Homo sapiens: one gene and its partners. The protein of the gene in region 1 interacts with the protein of each later gene in a biochemical or structural test. Each region holds a gene or a part of one and is shown in the gene's direction. Other genes may lie near its edges.

Region 1 (7,023 bases):
TGCAGTCTGCAGGAACAAAATGGCGGCACCCATTGATTTAGTTTAGTTCAAATGTGCACATAGAGGCATTACCTCTCTCTAGAGTGTAAGCTCTTTGGGGACAGGGTGGCTTTTCTCCCTTAGAATTCCCTTCGATTGTATAACGTCTGCATGCATAGTCAGCTCAAAGACTGTGGAATGTAGCTGAATTTCGAATTTGCTTATAGCCAGCCAAGCCATATTAAATTTCCCCAGTATATAGAGAGCTGAGAACACACACTGAGCTCGGGGCCTGAACCTCTTATTGCAGGCATTGGTCTGAGGGGCAGAGCTCATGAGAGTTCTTCTGGGCCAGGGTCTAAGGAGGCCCTCACTTAACCGGGGGCCTGTTGCATGGTTCTAGGTCATGGCTGCTGCCTGGGAGCCCATGTCTCCCCACTACTAGACATCATCTCCCAGCATTTTTGTCTGTCAAATTATGGAGTCTGGATTTTTTTCAGATTAAGTAAGCACTTAGAATGTAACATTATTCTATGTAGTATATATTGAAATATATTTCATAAATAGTAATATACATGTTTGTATTGAATTAGAAAAGACAGCTAAGGAAAAAAATCAGAATAGCCTCTTAAATGCCATGTCCTCATGCCTACTTCTGCCTTCAACGATAATCACTGTTAACATCTTTGCGTTTTCCTTTATATTATTTTTTTCTGTTTGTAAACGCGCACATGTATATGTTAGGTTTTTACAGAAGTGGAATCGTGTTTTGCTGACCGTTTTGTCCTGCTTTACTCAATATGACCTTAGGAACACAATTTCTTGCCAATAACTATAGGGTATGACTTTTAATGCTGAACAGCACTCCATCATGTGGACGCGCTGTCAGTCATCTATTTTCAGACATTTGTTTCCAGGTTTATGCTATTATACATAATCTGTGCACTTTATTATTTTTCCAAAATAAATAACTGGAAGTGAAATTACTAACAAAAGCTTTTTAAAAGCCTTTTGATATGCATTACCAAATTCAAAAGGTCTCCATGTTTACCTTTACCTGGGCATAAGGGTTATTTTGGGACCCCCGCCCATATCCCCAACCGCATGCCATTCTTTTCAGCACTTAGAATTAACCTTCTCTTCCATTCTTGACAATCTGACCTTTTTTAAAAAAAATTCTCATTTTAGGTTTACGTGAAATTTCTCGAAGTGGACCAGGGGTGGTGGCTCATGCCTGTAATCCCAGCACTTTGGGAGGCCAAGGTGGGAGGATCACTTGAGGCCAGGAGTTTGAATCCAGCCTGGCCAACATGAAACCCTTTCTCTACTAAAAATACAAAAATTAGCCGGGCGTAGTAGAGGGTACCTGTAGTCCCAGTTACACGGGAGGCTGAGGCAGAAGAATTGCTTGAACCTGGGAGCCACTGCACTCCAGCCTGAGTGACAGTGGCTCCATCTCAAAAAAAAAAAAAAAAAAAAATTCTTGAAGGTTCTGAACGGAAAAGGAAAATGTTGGAGGATGGCTGCCTCCCAGGTGGGAGTGCTCCATGGCCCGGAGGGGTGAGGACACCTTTGCTGAGTTTAGGAGTCTTGACCCTGGTCTGTTCCCGTCCACACCTACCTGGCCTGGTTCCAAACCTGCAGCAAGGCTGCGGCTGGGAGTTTAGCCATCCTGTCCCCTTGGGCCAGCCCTGGGTGGAACTCAGATCCTCTGTGGCCTCTGAATTGGAAATTTATGGGGAAGCCACTGTGGACAGAGCCACCAGAGCTGAGGCCCTGCCCATCTCCTCCTCATAGGAGGAGCCGGTGCCAGCCTTTCCGTGTGAACCTGTGATCCGTGAAGTCGGGTAAGCCCTTGCCAGTCCTGACATGAGCAAGGGACACAGAGCTTCCTAAATATATAGACTGGGATTTTGTCCGAATCACATGACGACCCAGGTTTTCTTTTTCCCTCTTTGTTGCTTTTAATACATAAAATGAGCATGTGTTTATTTAAAACAGCTTTCAAACTCAAACAAATAATGACAGACTGTTCAAACAGACTTCGGAAATCGCCCCAATCAGGATGTTTGAAAAATCAGGAAGACTTTCTACGAAAGAAGCTTTCAGGTCATTTTAGTCCCGAAGCCGCAGGGTCTCCTTTGCACTTTGGAATTGTAGAAGGGCAAAGTTTAGAGGCCAGCTCCAACCTCCAGGGGGTTAAATGACTTGCCCTCTAGCCCTACACTCTAATAATGTGTAAAGAAGGACAGATAGGTAGGCATTGTATTATCACTTCCCATCTTTGACCAGAACACGGGATGTATACATTTTAATTCATAATTCCTATAGAAATTACGGACTATCCTCAGATCAGAAAGCTAAGAGAGGAAATTGCTTCTGCAAAACGGCAGGCTCAGCAGAACTTCTTGGGGGAAGGGCAGGTTGAGTAGGTGCGGAGCAGGTCTGCAAGAGGACAGACAAGAGCAAGGTGTTTGTTCTGCCACGAGCTCACTTTCTGTATCCAATTTACAAATGGCTTTGAGTGACCTACGTTAATCTTCACAATAATGAATTTTATGGCTATGGATGAAGTAAATGAGGCTCGGGGCTGGGTTATCTGCTGAAGGTTATAAACTAATAAAATATCAAAGCCAGGGTTCACCCACACTCCTCCTCCAAGTCCCATGCCCTTCTCAGCCCCCTGGGATGGCAACAGCATCTCTATGCTGAGGCTTTGGGCCAAGAGCTGCTAGTTTAGCTCATCTCACTCTAGAAATGACATTGTTCTACGTAATGCATATCAGAAATGGCCTGTTAGGTTCATGAGAAGCACTGTTATTTGTGTGGGGGTGAGGGTGGTGAGAGGGAATTATTCCAGCTCTGAGGAGGTGGGGATATTTGGGACAGCATTTCTTCTGCTCTCCAGCACTGTGTGCCAGACCAACTGGGAGAAAATGCCAGCTGGAGTATGTCCCTGCATCCTCCGGTTTCCCAGGATGGCTTCAGGTCCAGACAGGACAAATGATCAGGGGCTTAGTCTGGTTCAGATTTTGCCACACAAAACTCTGTTGATTACTAAAGGGATTCAGAGCCCGGCCACTGACCTTCTCAATGTCAAGCCAAATTGCAGACAACCTATTGCCAGTGCCCTGACAAATTTGGGGTGTCTTTTGGCTGGGCTATTGGGGGTTTCAGCCTACCCATCCCTCAGAGAGAGAAGCATGGATGGGAGGACTAGTTGACATTTGCAGCCGTGTCTGTGATGTCTTGGGTTGCTCCCTGGAAGAGGCAGAGTTCTGGCTTGTGGAGAAGTCCTGACTCCTTCCTGCCCCACTGATCCCTGCTTATATGGAGAGGGGTGTGCATCTTGGCAGACAATCATGATTGTGCCTTAGCTCTGTGCTAAGAGCACTAAACACACATTTTATGTACGTCTATTGCCTCGCTTTTCTAACACTGAAATTTAGAAATGTTTAACAATAGATATTTAAAAAGAAGAAGAAAGCCCTTGCGCCCTCTCCTGGTAAAAGTTAACCAAGGACCTCCAAAGATGCAGAAGGCCCACTGGGTTAGCAGTCGCTGGTCTGGGCTAGCTGATTGTGCTGATTTGACCAATGCTGTTGACACACAGGATGGGTCATCTGTTCTTCTATGGTCTGTGATTACAGAGCATCTTATAAACCAGAGTTTCTCAGCCTCGGCCCTGTTAGCATTGGGGGGCTGCCCTGTGCATTGTGGGATGTTGAACAGCATCCGCGGCCTCTGCCCACTAGATACCAGTAGCACCCTCACCCCAAATCATGACCACTAAAAATGCTTCCAAACATTGCCAAATGTCCCCTGGGGGACAGGATCACTCTCAGTGTGACCCTCGCCCTAAATTCTTGCCTGCCTTTTGTAAAAGGTGGCATTGGTTGGAGGGCAATCCATGAGAATGTGAGGATGGCTCAAGGCAAGCCCTTCATGATGTCTGGAAGCAATATTGATGACTGGTTAACTGAGGTCACTTCTAGGAGTTTGTTTCAAAAAAGCAACTGAACAAATAGACAAGAATTTATATACAAAAATATATCATGATATTGTTTATAATAGCAAAAGTTTTAAACACTATAAACATGAATTTTTTAAAGTATGGCACATTTTATATATCATGAAAATAATTGTATAAATCTATATTTAATAATGTGGAAAGTTACCCTAACAATGCTTTAAATCCTCATCAAGACTACCTCAGGATTCTCAGAGGCTGTTACATATAGAAGGAGTAATTTCAAACAGATTCATAAGCATTTGGGTAAAGCATTAAGCCAAAGACCAATGATTGTATTCAGAAAGCTTAAGTGAACAAACATTTACTACGCACCTATAGTGCACCACAACCATGCCCAGCATGAGGGAGACAAAGAGAATCCCTGGTCCCACTGCTACAGCCCTTGCCCCAGAGAAAGGGAACCCCTCTGTGCACTGTTGGAGCCCCTCCCAACAGCGATGTCCAGGGTCATGGTATGTTACTGTTTCCTGTAATAAAACTGTGTGCTTTGAGTCAGGGTTGTTGGGAATAATGTGAAACTATTCTTGTTTTCTTCTTCATCCTGAATAAATCAGAAGTAAAAAGAATTCATTTACTGATTTATATATTCAAATATTCATTCAGAAAGTTGTCCAAATACTCATTGGACCCAAATGTGAAACATAATCTCCCCAAAATCTAGGAAATGAGCAATTGGTGATTTGCTCAATCCAAGCCCATCCAGAGGGTAGACTTTGCTACAACACACTACAGACCCGACTTGAGATGGAGAGATAGGAATGGAAGGGAGACACTTTTTGTCTCTCAGGGACCTGCACATCCAGTGACACACCCCTGATCTCCTGCCTTGTGAGATCCACAATTTGAGTAAATGCAGAGTTGTGGTCGTCCAGTCTAGCCACCCCCAAGAGAAACCCCCTGACAGCTCCCTTTCCCCAGGAGAACCTTGACCTTAGAGGTTGGCACTGCACCAGTCAAGGCCGCCCTTGGCCCCTCCACTGACTGAGCCCTTGACTGACCAAATGCTCTCATAGAGCTGCCGTTAGCCACGCCAGGGCATCAGCAGAGAGAAGGGTGCTGGTTTCTATCTGGGTTCAAAGCCTGGCTCTGCCACTTGTTAAAAAGTCTCTTATTCCCTGCGATTCTCAGCTTTTTCATCTTCAGAACAGAAACAAATAAAATAACTTCATAAGATTGGTACAAAGAATTAGCTGGATGAGAAAGCGCATGCCTTTAATCCCAGAACTTTGGGAGGCTGAGGCAGGAGACTCACTTGAGCCCAGGAGTTCAAGACCAGCCTGGAAAGTATAGTAAGACCCTATCTCTACAAAAAATTTAAAAATTAGCCAAGCATGGTAATCCTAGGTACTCAGGAGGCGGAGGCAGGAGGATCACTCTTGAGTCCAACAGTTCGAGGCTGCAGTGGGTCATGATTGCACCACTGCACTGCAGCCTGGGCAACAGAGCAAGACTCTTGTCTCTAAAAAAAAAAAAAGAAAGAAAAAGTTTGGTACAAAGACTAAAATAATGCATGTCAGACATTTGATAAGATGTCAACACTCAATCGAGGAGTGTGACGGTCATCATCATTGCTAGATTTTATTACTTTTATGGATGGGCATGCTAGCTAAAATTGCAAAACCTCTAATATTTTCTAACTGCCTCTGCTGTTTTTCTCCTCGGCCCTTAGCACTCTCTCCTACACCATGTGATAATTTATATTGATTGCTGTCTATACTGTTCCACTCAATGGAAGCTTCGTGAAGTAGGAACTTTTAGTCTATTTTATGCACTGCTGTATCTCTAAGATGGCTGGCACGTAAAGAGGGTCTCAATAAATATGCCTTGAATTAATGAAAACAGTGGTTTCTGAATCATGGCCTCCAAAGAGCATTTGCCTTTTCCCCTCTCACCCTTCTGAAGGTGCCCAGGCTGCCCTGGCAGGATGCCTCTTTCTCTGTGGGGTGGCATTCTCTGCTCTCTCTCTAATACTCTTTCTTTTTCTTCCCTCCTCTCCCCCAACTGCAGGATGCCTTTGTGGAACTGTACGGCCCCAGCATGCGGCCTCTGTTTGATTTCTCCTGGCTGTCTCTGAAGACTCTGCTCAGTTTGGCCCTGGTGGGAGCTTGCATCACCCTGGGTGCCTATCTGGGCCACAAGTGAAGTCAACATGCCTGCCCCAAACAAATATGCAAAAGGTTCACTAAAGCAGTAGAAATAATATGCATTGTCAGTGATGTACCATGAAACAAAGCTGCAGGCTGTTTAAGAAAAAATAACACACATATAAACATCACACACACAGACAGACACACACACACACAACAATTAACAGTCTTCAGGCAAAACGTCGAATCAGCTATTTACTGCCAAAGGGAAATATCATTTATTTTTTACATTATTAAGAAAAAAAGATTTATTTATTTAAGACAGTCCCATCAAAACTCCTGTCTTTGGAAATCCGACCACTAATTGCCAAGCACCGCTTCGTGTGGCTCCACCTGGATGTTCTGTGCCTGTAAACATAGATTCGCTTTCCATGTTGTTGGCCGGATCACCATCTGAAGAGCAGACGGATGGAAAAAGGACCTGATCATTGGGGAAGCTGGCTTTCTGGCTGCTGGAGGCTGGGGAGAAGGTGTTCATTCACTTGCATTTCTTTGCCCTGGGGGCTGTGATATTAACAGAGGGAGGGTTCCTGTGGGGGGAAGTCCATGCCTCCCTGGCCTGAAGAAGAGACTCTTTGCATATGACTCACATGATGCATACCTGGTGGGAGGAAAAGAGTTGGGAACTTCAGATGGACCTAGTACCCACTGAGATTTCCACGCCGAAGGACAGCGATGGGAAAAATGCCCTTAAATCATAGGAAAGTATTTTTTTAAGCTACCAATTGTGCCGAGAAAAGCATTTTAGCAATTTATACAATATCATCCAGTACCTTAAGCCCTGATTGTGTATATTCATATATTTTGGATACGCACCCCCCAACTCCCAATACTGGCTCTGTCTGAGTAAGAAACAGAATCCTC
Region 2 (7,059 bases), on another chromosome or scaffold:
CTTTCACCTCTCTCGCCTTTATCTTAGGCTAGGTGCTCCACACGGGAACCTGCATTGGTGGCCCCAGCTGTGTTTCCACAGAGGGACTTTGCCTTTTTCTCCTTATTTACTTATTTTCAGAATGTGGTGTGTTGAGCACCCCCACCATCTCCCACCCCTGCAAGCATGACCAGGTGGCAGCTGTAGTTCCTTATCCTCCTCCAGGCTTTGGGGCAGCAGGACTGCAGCCTCCATAACCTGCAGCAGCTTGGGGAGGTGGGGCCTGGGCTGCAGGCCCAGATCTGGAGGCTAGATGCTGAGATTCAGACCAGGGACCTGGACAGCTCCTCACCACACTCAGTTTTCCTTGGGCTTATGGGTGGGCCTACCCCACAGGATGGTCTGTGCCACTTTTTACAAATGCCAAGTTGTGAGGAGGAGAGGAGGGTGCCTGAGCTTGAGGCTGGTTCAACTCTCAAAGAGCTAGCAAGGCTGGGCCGAGGGCGGTGGCTCACGCCTGTAATCCCAGCACTTTGGGAGGCCAAGGCGGGTGGATCACGAGGTCAGGAGATCGAGACTATCCTGGTTAACACGGTGAAACCCCGTCTCTACTAAAAATACAAAAAATTAGCTGGGTGTGGTGGCAGGCACCTGTCGTCCCAGCTACTCAGGAGGCTGAGGCAGGAGAATGGCATGAACCTGGGAGGCGGAGCTTGCAGTGAGCCGAGATCGCACCACTTCACTCTAGCCTGGGCGACAGCACCATCTCAAAAACAAAACAAAACAAAAACAAAAAACAAAAAAAGAGCTAGCAAGGCTGAGATTGAGCACAGACTGGTCAAGCCACAGATAACGCACTTGTTCTTGCTGGTTGGCAGGAAGAACAATGGCTTGGCTGATCATCTTTTGCTACCTATTAAAATTGGTTTTATTTTGGCCGGGTACAGTGGCTCATGCCTGTAATCCCAGCACTTTGGGAGGCCAAGGCGGGCAGATCACAAGGTCAGGAGATCAAGACCATCCTGGCTAACACAGTGAAACCCCGTCTCTGCTAAAAATACAAAAAAATTAGCTGGCGTGGTGGCAGGCACCTGTAGTCCCAGTGACTCGGGAGGCTGAGGCAGGAGAATGGCGTGAACCCGGGAGGCGGAGCTTGCAGTGAGCCGAGATAGTGCCACTGCACTCCAGCCTGGGTGACAGAGCGAGACTCCGTCTTAAAAAAAAAAGTTAGTTTTATTTTCTAGGGAAGGCCCTGCTGGGGTGGAGGGAGACATCCTGGGGCAAAGTGGGTGCTAGGTGAGGAAGTCAGCCTGTGACACAGCTGGGATCAGTTCCACCCAGCAAGACTTGCTGTGTGCTCCTGAGCAAAGTGTAGCTCCTCTTGGAACCCTTGACTCCTAATCTGCAAAATGGGAGGACTTGAATTCTATATGTGGTTTTAAACCTTTTTTTTTTTTAAGCTGTGGAGTCATTTTCCACAAAAGGATTCCACAAAATCTAAGCAAAATCTTACGGAAAAGCCTAAGAGAAAGAAAAGCAAAACTTTGCCTGAAATGAGGTAGGGATCCTGGATGGGTCCAATTGGCATCATCCTGCCCACACTTCACATTCAACCAGTGGCCTTGAAGGAAGATGGTTTGGAGCAACCCAGAGCTCTCTGCAGATGCATTCACGTTGAGACTGTATGCTGGGATGGAGGGTTCTGGCAGGTTCTGACCAGATGACTGAATGCCATCAGCATTACAGTCACCCCTTGGTTTATGAAGGGGGTTGGCTCCAGGACCCCAACTTGTACTGCGAATACTCAAGTCCCACTGTTGGCCCTGTGGAACCTGTAGATACTAAAAGTCGGCCCTCTGTATATGTGGGTTTTTGGATCCATGTTGGATTGAAAAAAAATCCCCAAATCCCCATATGAGTGGACCTACACAGTTCAAACGTGTTGTTCAAGGGTCAACTGTGTATGAAGACTGCTCCATCTGTGGTGGACAGTGAGGCTTTAGAAAGAGGAGACAGGCAGGCTAATGGATGGTCTTCATGGGTGTGGGAAAGGAGGAGTGGTCACTGGGCGCAGGCAGTTGGTCTGTGGGACCAGTGAGGCATGGGCTGTGGCTGGCAGTAGGAAAGCGGGAGAGGCTGAGTGCAGTGGCTCATGCCTATAATCCCAGCACTTTGGGAAGCCAAGGCAAGAGGCTTGAGCCTGGGAGGTCCAGGCTGCAGTAAGCCATAATCATGCCACTGCATTCTAGGCTGGGCAACAGAACAAGACCTTGTCTCAAAGACAACAAAACAAAACAAAAACGGGGAGAGGAAAGGACCCAAGAGATGTTCCAAAAAAGAATTTCAGGAAACAGTGAAAAGTTGCAAATGGGGCATCAGGAGCCAGGAGCAGAGATTAGGTGGCAGGCAGGGGGTGCAGAAATGACAAGTTCTGTCTGGAACAGATGAAATTTGAGGTGCTTGTGGGACCTTTGAGTGGGCAGAAGCGGGGGCTGGAGACAAGGGTGTGGGAAAACTGTGATGGGGGTTGAGGGTGGAAATCGGGCCGGCAGAGCCTCCGGGGCAGAGAAAGTCCTATGGGGTGACCAGATGAGTTGAGAACTGGGTGGGTGGGTGCAGGCTCAATGGAAGCAGAAACTCATGGATATTGACTTACATGGGAGAAGGGGAATGGATGGGGGTCGCAGTGGGGTGGCAGGGCTCTCTTTTCCTTGTTTTTGTTTTTTTGCCCTTCCCTCTTCTCTTACTTTTCCGTGAGGGCTCCCCAGGCTCAGGAGAGATCAGGGTGGAAGGGTGACGGCCAAACCAGGGAAGGCTCCAGGTGGCTGAAGCCTGGTCTGTGCCCAGCAGGGCCCTGGCGGGCTGTTCCTCACTCCACCGGGCAGGTGATAACTGGTCAGAGCTGCCTCCCCACAGGTGCTGGAGGTAGGCTGGGAGGGCCGGTGCTCCCTGATGTGGACAGGGGGAGGGGTATTGATAAGAGGCGTGGAGAGATCCCTAGAGATGCAGTCTGTGGCCCTGGGTTCCAACCCAGTGTGCCACCACCTGGCTGTGTGACCTTCAGCAAGTGCCATTATTTCTCTGAGCCTGTTTGTTTATAAAATGAGGAAGAGTTGGCACAAGTTTGAAAAGATTTCTCAGGCTCCACCCGGTTCTGAAATTCGGTAATTTCCCAACTAGGGTGCACTCCCCCTGTAAGGGGCTGGGGAGGGGACGGTGCGAAACCAAGTTCAGCTTGTGGAGCGGAGCCAGAGCTGTTGGCCGAGCTTGGGCCTGGCCAACGCCTGCCCTCGGGAAGGTCCTGTGTAGGGAGACTGCCTGGAGGGACTAAGCGAGGGCTCTAACTGACGTCTCAGGGGCAGCCTCTCAGCCTGAGACCCTGCTGGGGAAGCCGCGTCCTGTGCACTAGCTGCGCCTAGGGCTGAGGTGAGGGCGCAGGCTCCCCAGGGTGTGTCCGAATTGCCCGCCTCAGCCCGCGGCCTGTCCTGACCGCCCAGCAGCGGCAGCAGCGACACCCTAGGGCTCCAGGAAGGGCTTGGGAAGGTGTAAAGGCGGGGCTAGGCTCGGAGGGAGCCGGAGGGACCGGGCGCGGTTGGCTCCCGGGAGCAACTGGAGAGTGAGGAGATCCTCATCCGGGGAAGCCCCGCGGCCGCGTCTCTACAGCGCCCCTTCTCGGGCTCTGGCCCTCCCGCTGGTTATTCTGGACCTGGGGGCCCCCAGCTGGGACCCGAGTCCGGTGCGGGGAGCCTAGTGGGCCTGGGAGCTGCTATTTTTAGCGGGCGCGGCGGGCGCGAGGAGCCTATTTATAGATCAAACAATCCGCGCTCCCTGCGTCAATGGAACCCCGCGTGCGTCACGCGCGCAGACATTCCAGGCCCCCCCTCCTCGCCCCGCCCCCTCGGGCTCCCCGGGCCGCACCTCCCCCTGGCCGCCTCCCGCCGGAACCGCACCGCCCCCCGCGCCCTTGTATGGCCAAAGCTCGACGGGCGGCCTGCGTCAGTGGCGCCCCCGCCCCTCCCCGTGCGTCACGGAGCGCTTAAGAGGAGGGTCGGGCTCGGCCGGGGAGTCCCAGTGGCGGAGGCTACGAAACTTGGGGGAGTGCACAGAAGAACTTCGGGAGCGCACGCGGGACCAGGGACCAGGCTGAGACTCGGGGCGCCAGTCCGGGCAGGGGCAGCGGGAGCCGGCCGGGTAGGTTCCCTTCGGGGAACGTGCATCTGTTTTTAGGAGCGGTGCATGAAGGAGATGGGTGTACGCGCGGGCAGAGAGGATGTTGTAGGGCCGGCATGCAAGAGGGTAGGTGTAGTGTGCAGCTGTAGCACAACGGGATGAGAACCCAGGTCAGACTGGAAACTACTGGGTGCGGGGTAGGAGGTAGGGGAGGTTGACTACCTGCAAAGTGGAAGCTGTAGGGGGTTGGGGTTGGCGCCGGGAGTAGGGACTTGTCCAGCAGGCGGCTGGCCTTAGTTCAGTCTCCTAGGGTGCCCAACTGGGCGCACGGTGCTCTGAACTTGGGTGGGTGTGGATGGGGGTCACAGCACCGTGGGGGAACAGGTACACAGAGCTTTGGCGCTGCTGGGATCCGTACGATTCTAACTGGGATTGGATTTCCAAAAGGCCCTCCTTCCTCCCAGCCTGTCAGCTCCCTCCCAGTGTCCCGGTTGTTTTCTTAACACTTTAGAGGCTGTGGCTGAGTTGGCAGGGGTTCCCCACCCTGAACTTTCTGTCTGAGGTGCGTTAGGAAGCCTCCGGATCATTGAAGGAAGTGACTGGCTTGGTGGCTGACCTGTGGAGGGCTGCTTGCTGTGTATTGAATAAAGGAGGCTTCTTGGGGTCGGGGCAGGGTCTCTGTAAGCACAGGGAGAATTGATTTCGCTGGGGCTTGGATCACGTGTGTGTGTGTGTGTGTGTGTGTGTGTGTGTGTGTGAGAGAGAGAGAGAGAGAGAGAGAAAGAGAGACAGAGGTGGAAACCCTTGTCCTTGGGGATCCTGGATAGAAGTTGCCAGTGTTGGAGTCTTGGGGCGGTGCTGCCTAGAGGATACCTCCCAACCATTCCAGCTCCAGATGCTGATCATCCCTATGCCCCCTCCCCCAGTAGTCTCTGTTGGATCTTACAGGTAGGGTGCAGCCTGAGGCTTGTTCAGCAGAACAGGTGCAAGCCACATTGTTGCCAAGACCTGCCTGAAGCCGGATTCTCCCCACTGCCTCCTTCAACCCCGCCTCTTCCTCCTCCTGTGGGACTGCTCCCCCCTCCTGTGAGGCTAGATGTAGGTCCATATCTTGTGTTGTTAAGAACCTGCATGAAGGGGGAGGGACTGATGGGGGTTGATCCGGATGTGGGACGTCCAGGTGGAGAAACAGGATTTGAATAAGGCAGGAACAAGCGCCCAGTTCTGCCCAACTGCTGTCTTTCCTCCTTCACCCCCAGCCCATCCCTGGCCAGGCTGTCCTAGTGCAGGCAGATGTGGCCACCCTCACCTCTCGCAGGGTGCTGCATGCCTGTGGACTGGTGCCACTGGGTGTGTGGGGCCTGAGCTACAAGGGTCTCTGTTGTCTTGGTTGTCAGGCTAGGGGTGGAGGTGCCCTGTTCAGGGCCTGTGGAGTTAGAAGGAAGGCTAGGACCAGAGAGGACTTCCTGGGCTCTTGGCCAGGAGGTGGTGACAGCCTTTGCCCCCATCACTGCACCCCTTGATTATGGTACTCTGTTCCTGCTTGATTTCTTCTCCAGCTTCCCTCATTGACTGGTGAGGCCAGAGTTACGCAGACCCCAGGTGTGTAGGTTGGGAGGGAGACTGTCCTGGAGCCTCCTCTGCATTATTTTTTGACCATTCTGTGAATGTAAGGATCTGCCTGAATGATGCTATCTCTGTTCAGGCTCTCTTCAGGCTCCTCGGGACTGGGGCTGTGTAACCCCCTTTGCCTGAGCCTCTGGATTCTTCAGGGCACAGACCCTGCTTTAGTGGAGGGACCCAGGCAGGGGCAGAATGTCTTCCACCCACCCACCAGCAGGCTTCTCCTTAAGTCTTCTGCTGGACTCTCAGAGTTCTCTTATTAAGATAACTGGGGGCAGCAGAACATTCTTTTTAGGTACTGTTGTCCATTCTCCTGAGAGTCCAGGGGGCTGTGGTCTCCTTCCTCCCCCCTTGCCCTGTCCCCAGCAAATGGCCTTTAAAGGTCTGGAGCCAGGTTACCGATGAGGAGGCCTAGGTTCCCTTCCTCTTTGCTTCTGGGAGCATCTCGAGCAGTGCAGAGTGGCTTCCCAGCCCCAGATGGCAGGATTGGGGTGGGTTTGGGATCTGCTGCCTTTGCTCAGTGTGCAGGGTTGGGGTGGAAATGGGGGACAGGCTAGGGCCTCTGCATTAGGCTGCCTTCTTAGGCAGGTGGGCTTTCACTTCCAGCTCCTCTTCCATTTTCACGATGTCCTTCTTCCTAGGCACTGCGAGGGGAGGAGAAAAGGGGCTTTGCAGAGGCCTGGGAGTATTCCCAGGAAGTGCCTGGTTGGCGAAACAACCAGGGAGCTGCTCCTGGGAGCTGGGCTGAGGCTTTGCTGGGCTGCCTCTCCCACTCACCCTTCTCCCGGCCCCCACCATGCCTTCCCCATGGGGGAGGGGCAGGGGGCTGGAGGAACACAGCTTCCCCCTGTTCTAGCAGAGAAATGCTGGCTGTATGCCTCCCCTAGGGTTCCCAGGCTGACTAGGGTGTGGCTGGCCTTCTGATGGAGCCCACTCATGCTGGGCCGCTGCCCAGGGGCTTTGTGGCACCTAGGTCGAGATGGTACTCAGGCCAGGGGTCAGGATTCCTGGGTGCTCTGGTCCCGGTGCCTCTGTCTCATCTTTAGGCTGGGATTCCTGCCACCTTGCTGCTCTGGGGCCCAAATACTTTGAGACAAGGCTATAGGCTTGTCCCACTGACTCTCCTTTCCCTCCCTGGGGTCTCCTCTCTCTCCAGAGATGCCCTGTATCCAAGCCCAATATGGGACACCAGCACCGAGTCCGGGACCCCGTGACCACCTGGCAAGCGACCCCCTGACCCCTGAGTTCATCAAGCCCACCATGGACCTGGCCAGCCCCGAGGCAGCC
Region 3 (7,023 bases), on another chromosome or scaffold:
CAGTCCCTGGCTAGGCCAGAACCCCAGGAAAGGCAGCCTCAAAAAACATGCTGCTGAGAAGGAGACCAGAACTGGAGTTCCTTAGTTCCCAAGAGCAGTTGCCAGGGCTCTGGGGGTGCCCAGGGCTCTTCCTGGACCCTGGGACCCTTCCTGGCATATTGGATTGGGGAGGCTTGTGAGCAGGTGAGGGAGGGATGGTGAGCACTTCCTCTGTCTTGGCTGCAGTTTCTTTTTCTTCTAACCACAAGTGCTTTCCCTTTCCCTCTTGCCTTCTCCTGTCTTCTGTCTCCTTCCTCATTCTTCCCTTCCGGCTCCCTTCCCGGCACCACCCATCTATTCTACCCACCCCGCTTCCCCCAGATCAAGCGTTTCCTGGAGGACACCACGGATGATGGAGAACTGAGCAAGTTCGTGAAGGATTTCTCAGGAAATGCGAGCTGCCACCCACCAGAGGCTAAGACCTGGGCATCCAGGCCCCAAGTCCCGGAGCCAAGGCCCCAGGCCCCGGACCTCTATGATGATGACCTGGAGTTCAGACCCCCCTCGCGGCCCCAGTCCTCTGACAACCAGCAGTACTTCTGTGCCCCAGCCCCTCTCAGCCCATCTGCCAGGCCCCGCAGCCCATGGGGCAAGCTTGATCCCTATGATTCCTCTGAGGTAGAGCCTCCAGCCCTGCCTTTGCCTTTCAGTGGGCTGCTGCAGGAAGACCGGGGGCAGGGAGCAGAGTGTGTGTGTGTGTGTGTGTGTGTGTGTGTGTGTGTGTGTTTGTGTGTGTGTGTATCTGGGACCTATTTCAGTCCTGTGTCAGCCCTAGCTCCAAGATATCTGCCCCCAAGGGCACTGGAAATTTGCAGTTTCAGCAAGGGCAGGAGGCCCAGCTGGTGGCCTCAGATGGGAACTCACAGAAGTCTGGCACTGCTTTTTTAAGGCTGGGGCAAAGGCCTGAAAGGGAGAGAAGATTGGCGCTGGGTGCCGGGGCCCCTTTGGCTCCTCACCGTGATGCATTCTGCCTTCCTGTCTACTAGGATGACAAGGAGTATGTGGGCTTTGCAACCCTCCCCAACCAAGTCCACCGAAAGTCCGTGAAGAAAGGCTTTGACTTTACCCTCATGGTGGCAGGTAAAAAAGGGGCAGGGCTGGGTTGGGCAGGGTGTGTTTCAGGTGGGGATGGTGTGTGTGTCCGTGAGTGGGAAGGGAGTATAGGTCGCAGGGAGCAAGCAGCGAGTGGCTGTACTGTTTTGCAAAACAGCCAGGAGTCATTGGCCTGTGAGAGTGTATGTATGTGGGGTGGGGTGGGGGTGGGGGTTCGAATTGGTTGCAAAGAGCATCTGACCAACAGTTTCCTAGCATTTGCCTCTTTTTGTGTGACCCTGGGCAATCTCTTGCTCCCCCAAGCCAATCTCTGTGCTTCCTCCCAGCTCTAAAATGCTATAGTTTGGTTAGTCTAGTTCCAATTAGATAAGAAAGCAGTCCCCCCTAAACCTTGATCCAGTGGAGTTGCTTTTTGGCTATAGATCTTACCTTCTGATTTGGTGCCTCTGTCCTCTCTCCTCTCAGGAGAGTCTGGCCTGGGCAAATCCACACTTGTCAATAGCCTCTTCCTCACTGATCTGTACCGGGACCGGAAACTTCTTGGTGCTGAAGGTAAGGAAAGGAGAGGACAATCAGGCAGACTTGCCTTGGGAAATTAAACTCACTCCAGAGTCTGGGGGATGGGGCTCTCCCCCACATGCAGGAAACCATGGCCTCCTAGAGAGACTGACAGCAGCTCTCCATAGGCCTAACTGCCTGGCAGCCCACCAGCCAGCTCCCTAAAGATTTGGGTGCTGAAGCAGGGCAGAGACCAGAGTCTTGCTCTCTGAATGAGTCTCTGACCCCCAAGGATTCCAGGAATCCAAGAAAAAAACCGGGAGCAGAGAAGAGGCTGGGGCCAGAGCCAACAGCCACCGGCATTTCCTGTGTTGGGAAATGTACTCCTTGCTGGTTCCCAGAGAACAGTCCCCCAGACAGCTTGGGAGTGGAGAAGGGGGCAGTGTGGATTAGGCAGTCTGAGCAACAAGGCTGGTTGGGGTGGGCGGTTCATCCTGACTGGGCAGGTCCCTGCCCTTGCCCTGGCCTCAGTTTCCCCTTTCTCCAGAGAGGATCATGCAAACTGTGGAGATCACTAAGCATGCAGTGGACATAGAAGAGAAGGGTGTGAGGCTGCGGCTCACCATTGTGGACACACCAGGTTTTGGGGATGCAGTCAACAACACAGAGTGGTATGTCTGAGTAAGCACAATCCCAGCTGCCCCTGAGCCACCCTTCTCCATACACAGGTACACACGTAGGCCCAGATATATCCATACTTATCAGGAGGAAGCGGTCTATGACCTTGAGCATGTGACTTCCCTTACTGGACAGCCATCTCCTCCTTTATAAAGTAAGAGGGAAAGGATTGGAATAGATGATTTTTAATGTTCCTTCCAATTCTGCCCTATGATTCTATAATGGGGTAGGGACATAAGAAAGAAGAGGCTGAGGCGGAAGTATCACTTGAGGCCAGGAGTTCAAGGCCAGCCTGGGCAACATAGTAAGATCCCATCTCTACAAAAAGTTTTAAAAATTAGCTGGGCATGGTGGCATAGGCCTGTAGTCTCAGCTACTGGGGAGGGTGAGGCAGGAGAATCACTTGAGCTCAGGAGGTTGAGGCTGCAGTGAGCCATGATTGCACTACTGCACTATAGCCTAGAAGACAAAGCGAAACCTTCCAAAAAAAAAAAAAAAAAGATAAGAAAGAAGAGCCTTAAAAACAAACACATGTGAAGTGTGAAAACATGTAGCACAGAGTTGATTACATAGTAGATGCCGAATAAACTGTCACCCTTTTTCCTTTCACTAGCAACATTTTAGGTGCCGCACACAATCTTGTTGAAGGGCTGGGCATGTATGGAGGGAGGGTAAAGGTGAGGAAGAATAGGCAAAAGGGAAAAATGGTGGAACTTTGTTTAAACTCCAGGCACCCTCTAGGCTACCTGCCGAAAGAAAAGCTGGATTTACCACAACCCCCTATCATTCGGGCTTTTTTATTTTTCAGGCACTGGAGGGACCCCCCTCCAGCTAATGGTCAGTAGGTCTGACCGTTACCTCCAGCTTAGGTAATGGTCAGACCTAAGTGAGTAGATGAAGAGGGAAATGGATGAGATTGACAGGAGAAAAGGTGGTAGCTTTGATGAAGAAGTTAGGCAGGCAGTGCTAAGAGCCCTAGACAGAGAGTTCAAATCTTGATTGGCATTTAGTAACTTCATGATCTTGAGCAAATGATCTCCTTCAATCAATTTACCTACTGTCTCTTACCTTCCATAATACTAATAATTTCATTTGCCAGGCACCTCACAGTTTAAAGTGTACCTCCATATATATTCATTTTGTCAGACACTTATTTAATTAAAATATACCAGCCCTTACCACCTCTCCAATTGATTTGAACATCACCCAACATGATGCATGCGCACTGAAAAGTGTAAAGGGCTATTTACAGCATACTCAGGAATTTTAACAATGGTAATTGCAGGACCAGCAACATAATTTGTTGGGCCCAGTGCAAATGAAAATGTAGGGCCCCGTGTTCAAAATTTTTAAGAATTTCAACATGGCAACGGCAGAGCATCAAATCAGCTAGAATGTGAGCACATACTAGATGTCCAGCCTGTGGTGGACATTTTAAGGGATTCAGAACAAGCATGAATGATTCCTATCCCTGAGAGGCTTATAGTCAAGTGGCAACAGGGAAGCAGGGGAGGTGGGGGCAGTTCTCTAACATGTTTCAATCAGATAGCAACTTAAATTAGTAAATGGGTCAGGCAATGTGTAGTGGCAAGTGCACTGAGCTGTAGGGGTTCAGGTGGGTAGAGAATTTACTAGCTAAATGACCTACAGAAAGTCCTTTTCCTTTCCCTCTCCTTCCTCCTTTCTTTTTTTTTTTTTTTTGAGACTGGTTCTCACTCTGTTGCCCAGGCTAGAGTGCAGTGGCCTGATCAACCACCTCCCGGGGCTCCCCGGGCTCAGGTTATCTTCCCACCTCAACCTCCCAAGTAGCTGGTACTACAGGTGTATGCCACCACACCAAGCTAACTTTTTTGTATTTTTTGTAGAGATGGGGGTCTCGCTATGTTGCCCAGTCTGGTCTTGAACTCCTGGGCTCAAGTGATCAGCCTACCTTGGCCTCCTAAAGTGCTAGGATTACAGGCGTGAACTACCACACCTGGCCTGGAGCAAATCTGTTAGCTGCTCTGGATTTAGTTTCTTCATGTATGAAATGAGAGTGATGATGATCATAATGCATAATGTCCACCTGTCAGGGCAGTGAGGATTAAACAAGATAATAGAAGAGCAAAGGATATGAAAATTGAGGTTCTTGGGGAAATTTATTTATTTATTTGTTTTGCTTTGTAGTGAAGAGAAGGGGAGAGCAGTGTGTATTGGTATAGTCAAAGGAGACTTCGTGGAAGAGATGGTTCTTAGGGCCTTGAAGGATGGAGTGGGTTTGGAGAGGTAGAGGAAAGGGTAGAAACACATGAGCAAAGAGGCTCTGAGGTTACACTGGAAACCTGACTTAGGGTTTCCCTGGCTTCCAGTTGGTATTTGCCTGCAGCCACCTTGCTATTCTTTTTTTCTTCTTCTTCTTCTTTTTTTTTTTTTTTTTGTGACAGTCTGGCTCCATCACCCAGGCTGGAGTGGTATGATCTTGGCTCACTGCAACCTCTGCCTCCTGGGTTCAAGTGATTCTCCTGCCTCGGACTCCTGAGTAGCTGGGACTACTCAGGTGCACACCACCACGCCCAGCTAATTTTTGTATTTTTAGTGGAGACAGGGTTTCACCATGTTGGTCAGGGTGGTCTCAAACTCCTGACCTTAAGTGATCCACCCGCCTCGGCCTCCCAAAGTGTTGGGATTACAGGGGTAAGCCACCGTGCCCAGCCTATTCTTACTGCTTTGTTTGATCACCTGGGCCCTTTCCCTCTCATCAAGCTAGTATTTATTAAACTTGCCTGAGTACTCAGTCTAATTTTGTATCAGGACATGTGAGATACACCCCACCCCATTCAGGAATTTCTCTAAAGATTTAGTAAAGCAAGCCAGGGAATAACAGTGTCTTAAAAACACTGCTCAGGGAGTGGGCTACTTCTCTGTAGTCCCAGAGCTCACTAGGTGGCTCCCACTCTCACAGTTTCTCTGCTTGTCTGTCCCTGCCCCAGCTGGAAGCCTGTGGCAGAATACATTGATCAGCAGTTTGAGCAGTATTTCCGAGACGAGAGTGGCCTGAACCGAAAGAACATCCAAGACAACAGGGTGCACTGCTGCCTGTACTTCATCTCACCCTTCGGCCATGGGTATGGTCCAAGCCTGAGGCTCCTGGCACCACCGGGTGCTGTCAAGGGAACAGGCCAAGAGCACCAGGGGCAGGGCTGCCACTAGCAGGTGGTCACAGGTTCCTGTTCCCCAGGCTCCGGCCATTGGATGTTGAATTCATGAAGGCCCTGCATCAGCGGGTCAACATCGTGCCTATCCTGGCTAAGGCAGACACACTGACACCTCCCGAAGTGGACCACAAGAAACGCAAAGTGAGGGAAGCTGGTGGTGGGAGGGGATCAGGTGGGCTTCTAGAAAGGATGTGGTCCCCAGAACTGTGGGCCCCTCATCTGTTTGTCAGATCCGGGAGGAGATTGAGCATTTTGGAATCAAGATCTATCAATTCCCAGACTGTGACTCTGATGAGGATGAGGACTTCAAATTGCAGGACCAAGCCCTAAAGGTGGGGCCACTCTAGGGCATCCCATTCCTATCTTATTTCTTCCGGGTAGAAAAAGGGAGTAGAATTCTATATTCAGGCTATCAGGGTGGGAAAGGACCCTGGCTTCCTAGAATGAAGCAGAGAAGATGACGATACAGGTGGAAAGAAAGAGGTGAGAACAGAGGGTGCTGACAGGCACCCCTAACCTCTTCCAGGAAAGCATCCCATTTGCAGTAATTGGCAGCAACACTGTAGTAGAGGCCAGAGGGCGGCGAGTTCGGGGTCGACTCTACCCCTGGGGCATCGTGGAAGGTAAAGCACTGAGCCTGTGACCAGGGTATCTCCTTGCCCTCAGTGGCTCTCCCCTACCTATGCCTCTGGCTGACCCCTAGCCTTGCTATGCAGTGGAAAACCCAGGGCACTGCGACTTTGTGAAGCTGAGGACAATGCTGGTACGTACCCACATGCAGGACCTGAAGGATGTGACACGGGAGACACATTATGAGAACTACCGGGCACAGTGCATCCAGAGCATGACCCGCCTGGTGGTGAAGGAACGGAATCGCAAGTATGACCAGAAGCCAGGACAAAGCTGGCAGGGGGAGATCCCAAGCCTAGCCTTGGGTGAGACCAAGCCCTACTTTTGTTCTTCTATAGGCCCTGGGCTCAATCTAAGCGGGTGCTGGGGTCCTCCTCGCCTTATCAACCCTTTTCTCCCTTTAGCAAACTGACTCGGGAAAGTGGTACCGACTTCCCCATCCCTGCTGTCCCACCAGGGACAGATCCAGAAACTGAGAAGCTTATCCGAGAGAAAGATGAGGAGGTGAGAGCAGTATGGGGTATAGGGGAGGTCTCCTGTTTGATCACCAACGTTGGTATCTCTTTGTTTGGTAATAGAAAGATCCCTGGCTCTGGTGCATATTTGGGTCCTGGATAGGTCAATAGGTGGTTCTGTCCAGAGTCTCCATCACACCTCACGGCTACCAAGGTTCTGGCTTAAGGGATTAGAAATTTGGGGCACTTTCCCAATACTAAAGGACTCTCCAAAAGTCCCCATTTTGATGCCTGTGCCTATTCCAGCTGCGGCGGATGCAGGAGATGCTACACAAAATACAAAAACAGATGAAGGAGAACTATTAACTGGCTTTCAGCCCTGGATATTTAAATCTCCTCCTCTTCTTCCTGTCCATGCCGGCCCCTCCCAGCACCAGCTCTGCTCAGGCCCCTTCAGCTACTGCCACTTCGCCTTA
Region 4 (7,142 bases), on another chromosome or scaffold:
TTGCTTTGTTTTACAGGAATATATAACCCCCATCCCCACAGAGTTAGTCCATAAGGCCTCAGTGTCTGCATAGAAATGTGGACCTACCTCTACTAGAGAACTATTTACACTGCACTGTAAATACACGTCTGTGTCCACCCCCACAACTAAGCTGTCAATGCCTTGAGTGAAGGGGTAGTTACAACTCAGTCATTTTGTATCTACAGTGACAATTAATAGGCACTCAATACTTTTTTTTGCATGAATGATAAATGATATTACACTACCACCACTATTTACATTAACATTTCCCATCATTAGCTGTCCCCAAAATAAAAACACCAAATTGCTGCCACATTTTCAGCAGTTTTCATAATATAGTGCTTCTGGACTTTTTAATGTAAACAAACATGCTTGATTTACCAATTTTCAGAGTAATGACACAAACTTAGCATTCTTCTTGGAATGGAAAACTTTCTGGGAAGTTACTTCATTCTTTTTCTCTTTTCAAAAGGCATCTCGCAGCGCCAACTGTTTTTCTCAGAAGGAACGCTTATTTTCTGACCAGACATTCTGGCTATACCACATCATCATAAAGTTCTTCTGTTTTTTCTTCTCTTTACTTTTTGAACTGGAAAATGGATTCACTTTGGTTTTCTTCCTCACAAATTCTTTTCGGTCTGTCTTTCCAGCCATTGCAGTTGCTAGTCTTGTCTCTTTGTCAGATTTTGGCTTTTTATGAAGGCGTTCAATGTCCGGAAGAGAAAGTAATTCACCCCTCGGCTCTTCATCACTGTCGATTTCAATATATTTCCTCTTCTGGGATTTCCCGGGGACAGCGTCAAGTTCTTTTCTCATTTGCGCCATGCGGATTTTCTGGAAGTCTTCCTAACTTAAAACTCGACTGGTGCTGACGGCTGCAGTTTTGGCTTTCTGCTCCTCCATGGGCATGGTGTTCAGCTTCTTGGAAATTTCTTGCTGTTCTTCATTGGAAGAGTGTTGCACATCAACCCATTCGCCATCGGCATCCTCCTCCTCACTGAGACTGGTACTTTCCCATCCATCTTCATCATTTTCAGCACTCTCCTCTTTCTCAACTTCCAGAACTTCTGCTCCTGGAATGTAACCTTTAGCATCTAATTCTCCATATTCTTGTACTCTTGCTTCTATGGAGGCTTCTGTAGGCTTACCCCAGAATTTCTTCTGCAGCATCTGAGGATTCAGTGTTCGGAAGAGCCGAATCAAAGTTCTAGCAGACATCATTACATTATTATCCTTGTGTGTTTTATACTGAGCCAGGTCTTGGAGAAGCTTTTCAGTCATGGCCAGAGGACACTGAGCTGTTGTCTCTTTTACAGCATTGATTCCTATTGTCATGGCTTCTCCAGAGTTCTTGTCGTTAACAAAATTGTTGGCCACAGTCATAAGCAATGATTGAATAATCGCTGGGTGTACTAGGTGATGAGATGCTTGTGCAGCAAACAGAAGGTTCTTTGTTACTTCTCTTTGGTGGGGCTGCAGAAACCTTCGCAAAAAGTGATAGAAATTGAAGAGGAAGAGCTTATGAATTCCCACCAATCTGAGATGAGGTTCATGAGCATCATCTTCACTTCCAACCTCTCCTTACAGCACTCAAGCTGCTTTAGTAGTTTTTCTGCAAAATCTTGGGGATCATGAATCAAGTGAACGGCTAAAAAGTTAAACACCTCTGGTTTTTTCTTCTTCTTTTGTTTCTTGAGCACTTTCATTGCCTTTTCCAACTTTTTCTTGTTTTGGGAACTTTGTTCCCTGTAGCATACTGTGCTAGCAGGTCTCTTGCTGTTGGTCCGTCATCCTCAGATTCGGAGTCACTGGCCTGTTTTTCATCTTCATCTTTTCCAAGAAAGAATGTCAAAGCAGCAACTAATATCTTGGTGACCTAAGAGAAACATGCAGTTGTGATAACATTGACAGTTTTGGTATCATTCCAGATGTTCCTTCTGTAGAGTTCAATCATAACATCTAAAGACATCTTGGCTGCAGTTGCATTGCTATCTCTCAACATGGTATACATGAAATTTTACAATACTACATCCACTTTATTCTTGTGTTTTGCATTTATATTCTTGATATCAGTCACGATATATGTGTATGAAGTCTTTTGCAGAAGCTTATCATGGCAACAGAGAAGTTCAAAGAAGAGTTCTAGCAGGCTTGATGGATTGATGAGATTCTTATTTCTCAGCAAGATCAAAGCTTTGCAAAATGTCATTCGAAGATCTGGATCCAATACAGTATGATTACAGGACAGAAGATCTTTCACCACTTGAGGAAAATTACTTAGATACCCTGGGTAGCAGTAACTAATCTATAACAAAGCAAAGGCTCTTCTGAAGTTTCTCTCTTTCTCTCCTATTATTCAGATGCACATATTTAGGACGTTCTGTGCCATAAACACCACCAGCTCTGCTAGTTCTTTACCGGGTTTATATGGTTGCAATTTGAAAATCTCCACATTGGATGTGTAGTGATTATACTGCTGTAGAAACTCCTAGATGGAGGGTGGTGGGTCTCGCTTCATCAGATTCTGTAACTGCAGTCAGGTTGCTGGGCAGCTTGTTGTTGTTTCTGCTGGACATTCTGGCTGAAGACTGGCTTCGCGGCGAGCAGTTTTAATAAAACTCAGATGGCCAGCAGCCGCCAATCCCTACCAGCTGCGGCTTGAACTCCTGCTTCCGGGTATGACCGGAAACAGCACTCAATCTATTAATAGAGTTCATTTCTGACCAAAATCTTAAAAGAATTTGCAAAGGGATTTGACAAATCAATCCTTAAAAAAAACCTTTTAGCATGGACTTTTTCAAATATATTAAAAAATTAGAGGAATACTTTAATGTATTACATAGCTTCAATAATTACCAACACAAGGTCAATCTTGGACAAGTCCATTTTTAAGTTCATCTGAAGAGTAACTAGCCATTAACATCTGAAAAAGACAAAGGAAGAGAAACTTTAATAGTTATCTAACAGAGGTATTGCAGATAGCCCTGAAACAGACTCACATTTTTGTGGTCATTCAGAGAGTGACAAAGGTGCAATTTCAAATCAGTGTAGAAAGGATGGCTTAAAATTAATATTATTAGGTCAATGGGCTACAAAATTGGGAAGAATTGAAGTTAAATAATTTACAGCATATGGAAAATAAATTTCAGATGGATTAGAGCTCTAAATGTAAAGTTAAGCCTATAAGAAAATTAGAAAAAGTTATAAGGGAATTATAGATTAGTAATCTTGGTGTGACTGTCTCCCCAAGCCATGTAAGAATGATAAATCTGATTACATGAAAACCTTAAGCTTCTACAGAGTGAAAAAAACAAATTAAAAGACAAGTTAGAGACTGCGAGAAACATATGTCACTCATAAATCAGACCAAGGAGACTGGACGAAGACATGGAGATGTGAAGTAGGAGGTGTGCTCAGGAACATAGTTTAATGTCATCCACGTACAGGATAAACGGCTTCCCACGTCATGTCCCAGAAATCGATTAGTCGATGGGATTTGGGTGAGTACTTTCTTCTCTCTGTTTTCCTGAATTTTTCTTTTTTCTTTCTTCCCCTTTCTTCTTTCTCTTTTTTTCAGAATGATGGTGTGTTTGTAATCGACATTTTAAAAATTCTGTAACAATTAAATTTGGGGGCGGCCTTCCCTTGTTTCCCGTATGGAGTGTTGATGTTTCAGCAGCTTTATTTGGAGTTTACACGTGGAGGCACCTGGGTTTGGGGATTCCTTTGTGTCCCCAAGACACCTATTGCAGAAGTGAGTCCTAAGAGGTAGAAAACAGATGCGTGCGCAGGGCTGGGTGAAGCACTGTGGAGCCTGTGTGAGAGGAGGCACGGGCGCGAACACAGGAGCGCACTTCCTCATTCCGTTTCTCCTCATCCTCTCTCCCACTGCCACTGGCATCACTCATCCCATCCGGTCATCCCAAGTCACACGCAAGAGTTCGTTCCCGGCGCGCGCGTCAGCCTGACTCGAGCGTCTCCACGTCCGGGGCCCGCAGGGGAGCGCCCCTGCCCCGTCCGGTCGCTTGTTGTGTTGTCATCACGTGGCCTGGGCGGGCCCTGACGTCAGGGGCAGGGGAGGGACGGCGCAGGCGCAGAAAAGGGGGCGGCGGACTCGGCTTGTTGTGTTGCTGCCTGAGTGCCGGAGACGGTCCTGCTGCTGCCGCAGTCCTGCCAGCTGTCCGACAATGTCGTCCCACCTAGTCGAGCCGCCGCCGCCCCTGCACAACAACAACAACAACTGCGAGGAAAATGAGCAGTCTCTGCCCCCGCCGGCCGGCCTCAACAGTGAGTGCGGGGCCGAGGCTCTGTGAAGGGGATGGGGGAGGAGGAGCAGCCCCGGCCGCCGCCACCGGCGCGGCGCGGGAGGCGGGAGGAGAAGGCAGCTCATTGGCTCAGGCATGGGATGTCCAGGTGACTGACAGCTCCCGTCCCCTGTCAAGAGGAGGGGCGCCTGCCTTGCTCCGGGCCTCTCTGTTGCCTCCTGGGGTCTTGGGCCCGGGGCCGTTTGGGCTCGCGGTCCGGGAGCGGCGCGGGTAGCGCGGATCCCCCTGGTGCGGGGGGTGGTCCCCAGCAGCGGAGCCGGGCGGGGCGGGGCGGGGGCGGGCCTGGGGGGCGGGGAGGCCGGGTGGGCGGAGCGGGCCGCGGAGGGGACGTGGGCCGGGATGGGGACGTGCGGCGGGGACGCCGGGGGATGGACGCGCGGGAGCGGGGCGGGGCGGGCGGCTGCCGCGGGACGTGTCGGGGATCAGGTGTGCGGGGCTCGCGGGCGGGCAGCGTCTGGCGGGCGCGGGAGCCCCCCAGCGAGCATTCCTTTGTTGCCACACGTTTGTCAGGAAAATTCATTTGCTCGTCTAGGGTTGGCTTCAGTCACGTGTGGGGTGAGAGGCTGTGCCTTGCTTCTCCTTTTTCCTTTTTTATTTTTTTATTAGATTTCTCGAAGTTGCCCAAGTGATTTTTTTTTTTTTAAAGCGATGGGTTGTGCGCCCAGTAAAGCTGAGAGCAGCCTCCTGAACCACCCAAGATTGCACACGTCAGGGAGTCTGGGGCCATGCATTTAAAGAAACGGAATTAAAAACGCACTCGGGCAGTTGAAAGTTAACGGACGAGGCTGATAGACAACCCAGGCCAGGGTCTTTTCATAACATTCCGCTGCCCAGACATCTTGTCCTCAGATTGTTCCTAGTCGTGAGAACCGGGAGCCTTCTTGGAAGGGTTCTTGCCTAACCTTTCTTTAATTCAACTCTTGGGAAAGAGGTAATGGGAGCAGTGAGCATATGGCCAGATGAAGTCTTTTCAAAACCACTTGGATGCTTAAAGGTCATGCAGTATCTTTCGTAAGAGGGAGGTGCTTCCAGTGTGGCCTGAAGATTATTTTAGGGAAGAGAGTTTCAGCCCTCACCAGGTAGCGATGGAGTTTGGAGATTTTAAGATGGATGCTGCTGCTCCAGGTTTTGATGGGTTAATTCCCAAAACCTTTAAGTGTCATATATTCCAGAATGTAAGATGGTTATATTATTTCCCACAGTAAATTAGGATGAATGTATGAGTCTTTAAACGTTACTTGTATCACATATTCCTATGCAATTTTAAGTTATTTGCCCATGTTTAGCATACTGTCTTAGATTTTAGAATGGGAAGAAACTTCAGAGCTAGCTAACTGCCTCCTGTTGTTTGCCTGTAGAGAAACAGGTCTAGAGTAAATGGCCTTGTCCAAGTTCACAACCGGCTGGGAGCAAAGCAGAGGTTCTCATGTTCAGCCTGTCTACTGCTCTTTTGAGGACATTTTTTTTTTTTTTTTTTTTTTTTTGAGGTAGAGTCTCGCTCTGTCTACAACCTCCGCCTCCCAGGTTCAAGCGATTCTTCTGCCTCAGCCTCCCGAGTAGCTGGGACTACAGGTGCCTGCCACCCGCCCAGCTAATTTTTGTATTTTTAGTAGAGACGAAGTTTCGCCATGTAGCTGGGATTACAGGCGCCCGACACCAAGCTAGGCTAATTTTTGTATTTTCAGTAGAGAGGGGGTTGTTGGTCTCTCACCATGTTGGCCAGGCTGGTCTCAAACTCCTGACCTCACGTCATCCGCCCGCCTGGGCCTCCCAAAGTGCTGGGATTACAGGCTTGAGCCATCGCACCGGCTTCTTTTCAGTGGTGCAGAACCTCCTGCTGGTGTGTGTGTCTTATTTTGTCAGTGTGTTATTCTACCTAATTGACAAAGGTGGCCAACCTTTCTGTTTCTTTTTAGTATTGTTTCTTAATTGTACAGTTTTCTTATGAGTGAAGATACTTGGTAGGTGTACGTGATTTCACTGAAAGCAAAGGGATTTTCATCTTCCTTTGACCCTTTAACAACAACAACAAAAAGGGCTGAGCCAGGCAGGGCACGATGGCTCACACCTGTCATCCTAGCACTTTGGGAGGCCAAAGCGAGTGGATCACTTGAGGTCAGGAGTTCGAGACCAGCCTGGCCAACATGGTGAGAGAACAACCCCCTCTCTACTGAAAATACAAAAATTAGCCTGGCTTGGTGTTGGGCGCCTGTAATCCCAGCTATTCAGGCGGCTGAGGCAGGAGAATCGCTTGAATCCGGGAGGCAGAGGTTGCAGTGAGCCGAGATCACGCCACTGCACTCCAGCCTGGGTGACAGAGCAAGACTCTGTCTCAAAAAAAAAAAGGGGCGAGGGCGGGGGCTGAGCCATATGTCATTGTTTATCTTGGTGTCTGACAGACCTATGAGGAGTTTGATGTCTTTGGCCAGTCGGTTCCTGCTTGGCTGACATCAGCTCTTACAGAGGTGGAAGTACACTCAGCCTGCATGGGACATCAAAATGTTGCTTTGGGACATCTGCTAGATAGAAAGTATTTTGTGTGGGATAGGGTGAGCTTTCTGAAAAGCTTTTAGATATTGCCATATTTAATTACTCCCTTCTTGCCTCTCACTCTGTTCGTTTTTTTAGCTCATTACACAACACTGTACTGAACAAAACAAGAAGCCTCATTGAATTCCTTGAAGTGATTTTTGGGCAATGGGCAAAACAACTTATTCAGGCATCTAGTACTATCCAAATTGCTGATAAGTCGAAGGACTTTGTTGGGTAAAGTTGCACAACTGAAAAACAGGAGAA

What was found.
Region 2: the proteins of BCL2 (region 1) and NR4A1 form a complex in vitro, tested with the Homo sapiens proteins (2 studies listed by BioGRID).
Region 3: the proteins of BCL2 (region 1) and SEPTIN4 interact in a test that uses a peptide from one of them, tested with the Homo sapiens proteins (one study listed by BioGRID).
Region 4: the proteins of BCL2 (region 1) and BNIP3L form a complex in vitro, tested with the Homo sapiens proteins (one study listed by BioGRID and IntAct).

Annotation. Positions count from the first base shown.
Region 1 is NC_000018.10:63,127,756-63,134,778, reverse strand, and holds part of BCL2 (apoptosis regulator Bcl-2), read left to right. Parts: intron 1-6,019; coding exon 6,020-6,154; 3' UTR 6,155-7,023. UniProt on the Homo sapiens protein: Suppresses apoptosis in a variety of cell systems including factor-dependent lymphohematopoietic and neural cells. Regulates cell death by controlling the mitochondrial membrane permeability. Appears to function in a feedback loop system with caspases.
Region 2 is NC_000012.12:52,047,399-52,054,457, forward strand, and holds the start of NR4A1 (nuclear receptor subfamily 4immunitygroup A member 1), read left to right. Parts: upstream 1-4,043; 5' UTR 4,044-4,170; exon of another isoform or gene 4,171-4,265; coding exon of another isoform or gene 4,266-4,275; intron 4,276-5,097; exon of another isoform or gene 5,098-5,247; intron 5,248-6,928; coding exon of another isoform or gene 6,929-6,930; coding exon 6,931-7,059. UniProt on the Homo sapiens protein: Orphan nuclear receptor. Binds the NGFI-B response element (NBRE) 5'-AAAGGTCA-3'. Binds 9-cis-retinoic acid outside of its ligand-binding (NR LBD) domain.
Region 3 is NC_000017.11:58,520,316-58,527,338, reverse strand, and holds part of SEPTIN4 (septin-4), read left to right. Parts: intron 1-360; coding exon 361-657; exon of another isoform or gene 658-1,025; coding exon 1,026-1,119; intron 1,120-1,521; exon of another isoform or gene 1,522-1,557; coding exon 1,558-1,644; intron 1,645-2,137; coding exon 2,138-2,261; exon of another isoform or gene 2,262-2,271; intron 2,272-5,237; coding exon 5,238-5,372; coding exon of another isoform or gene 5,373-5,457; exon of another isoform or gene 5,458-5,485; coding exon 5,486-5,603; intron 5,604-5,692; coding exon 5,693-5,794; intron 5,795-5,988; coding exon 5,989-6,085; intron 6,086-6,178; coding exon 6,179-6,341; exon of another isoform or gene 6,342-6,496; coding exon 6,497-6,596; intron 6,597-6,853; coding exon 6,854-6,913; 3' UTR 6,914-7,023. UniProt on the Homo sapiens protein: Filament-forming cytoskeletal GTPase. Pro-apoptotic protein involved in LGR5-positive intestinal stem cell and Paneth cell expansion in the intestines, via its interaction with XIAP. May also play a role in the regulation of cell fate in the intestine.
Region 4 is NC_000008.11:26,378,923-26,386,064, forward strand, and holds the start of BNIP3L (BCL2/adenovirus E1B 19 kDa protein-interacting protein 3-like), read left to right. Parts: upstream 1-4,131; 5' UTR 4,132-4,208; coding exon 4,209-4,308; intron 4,309-7,142.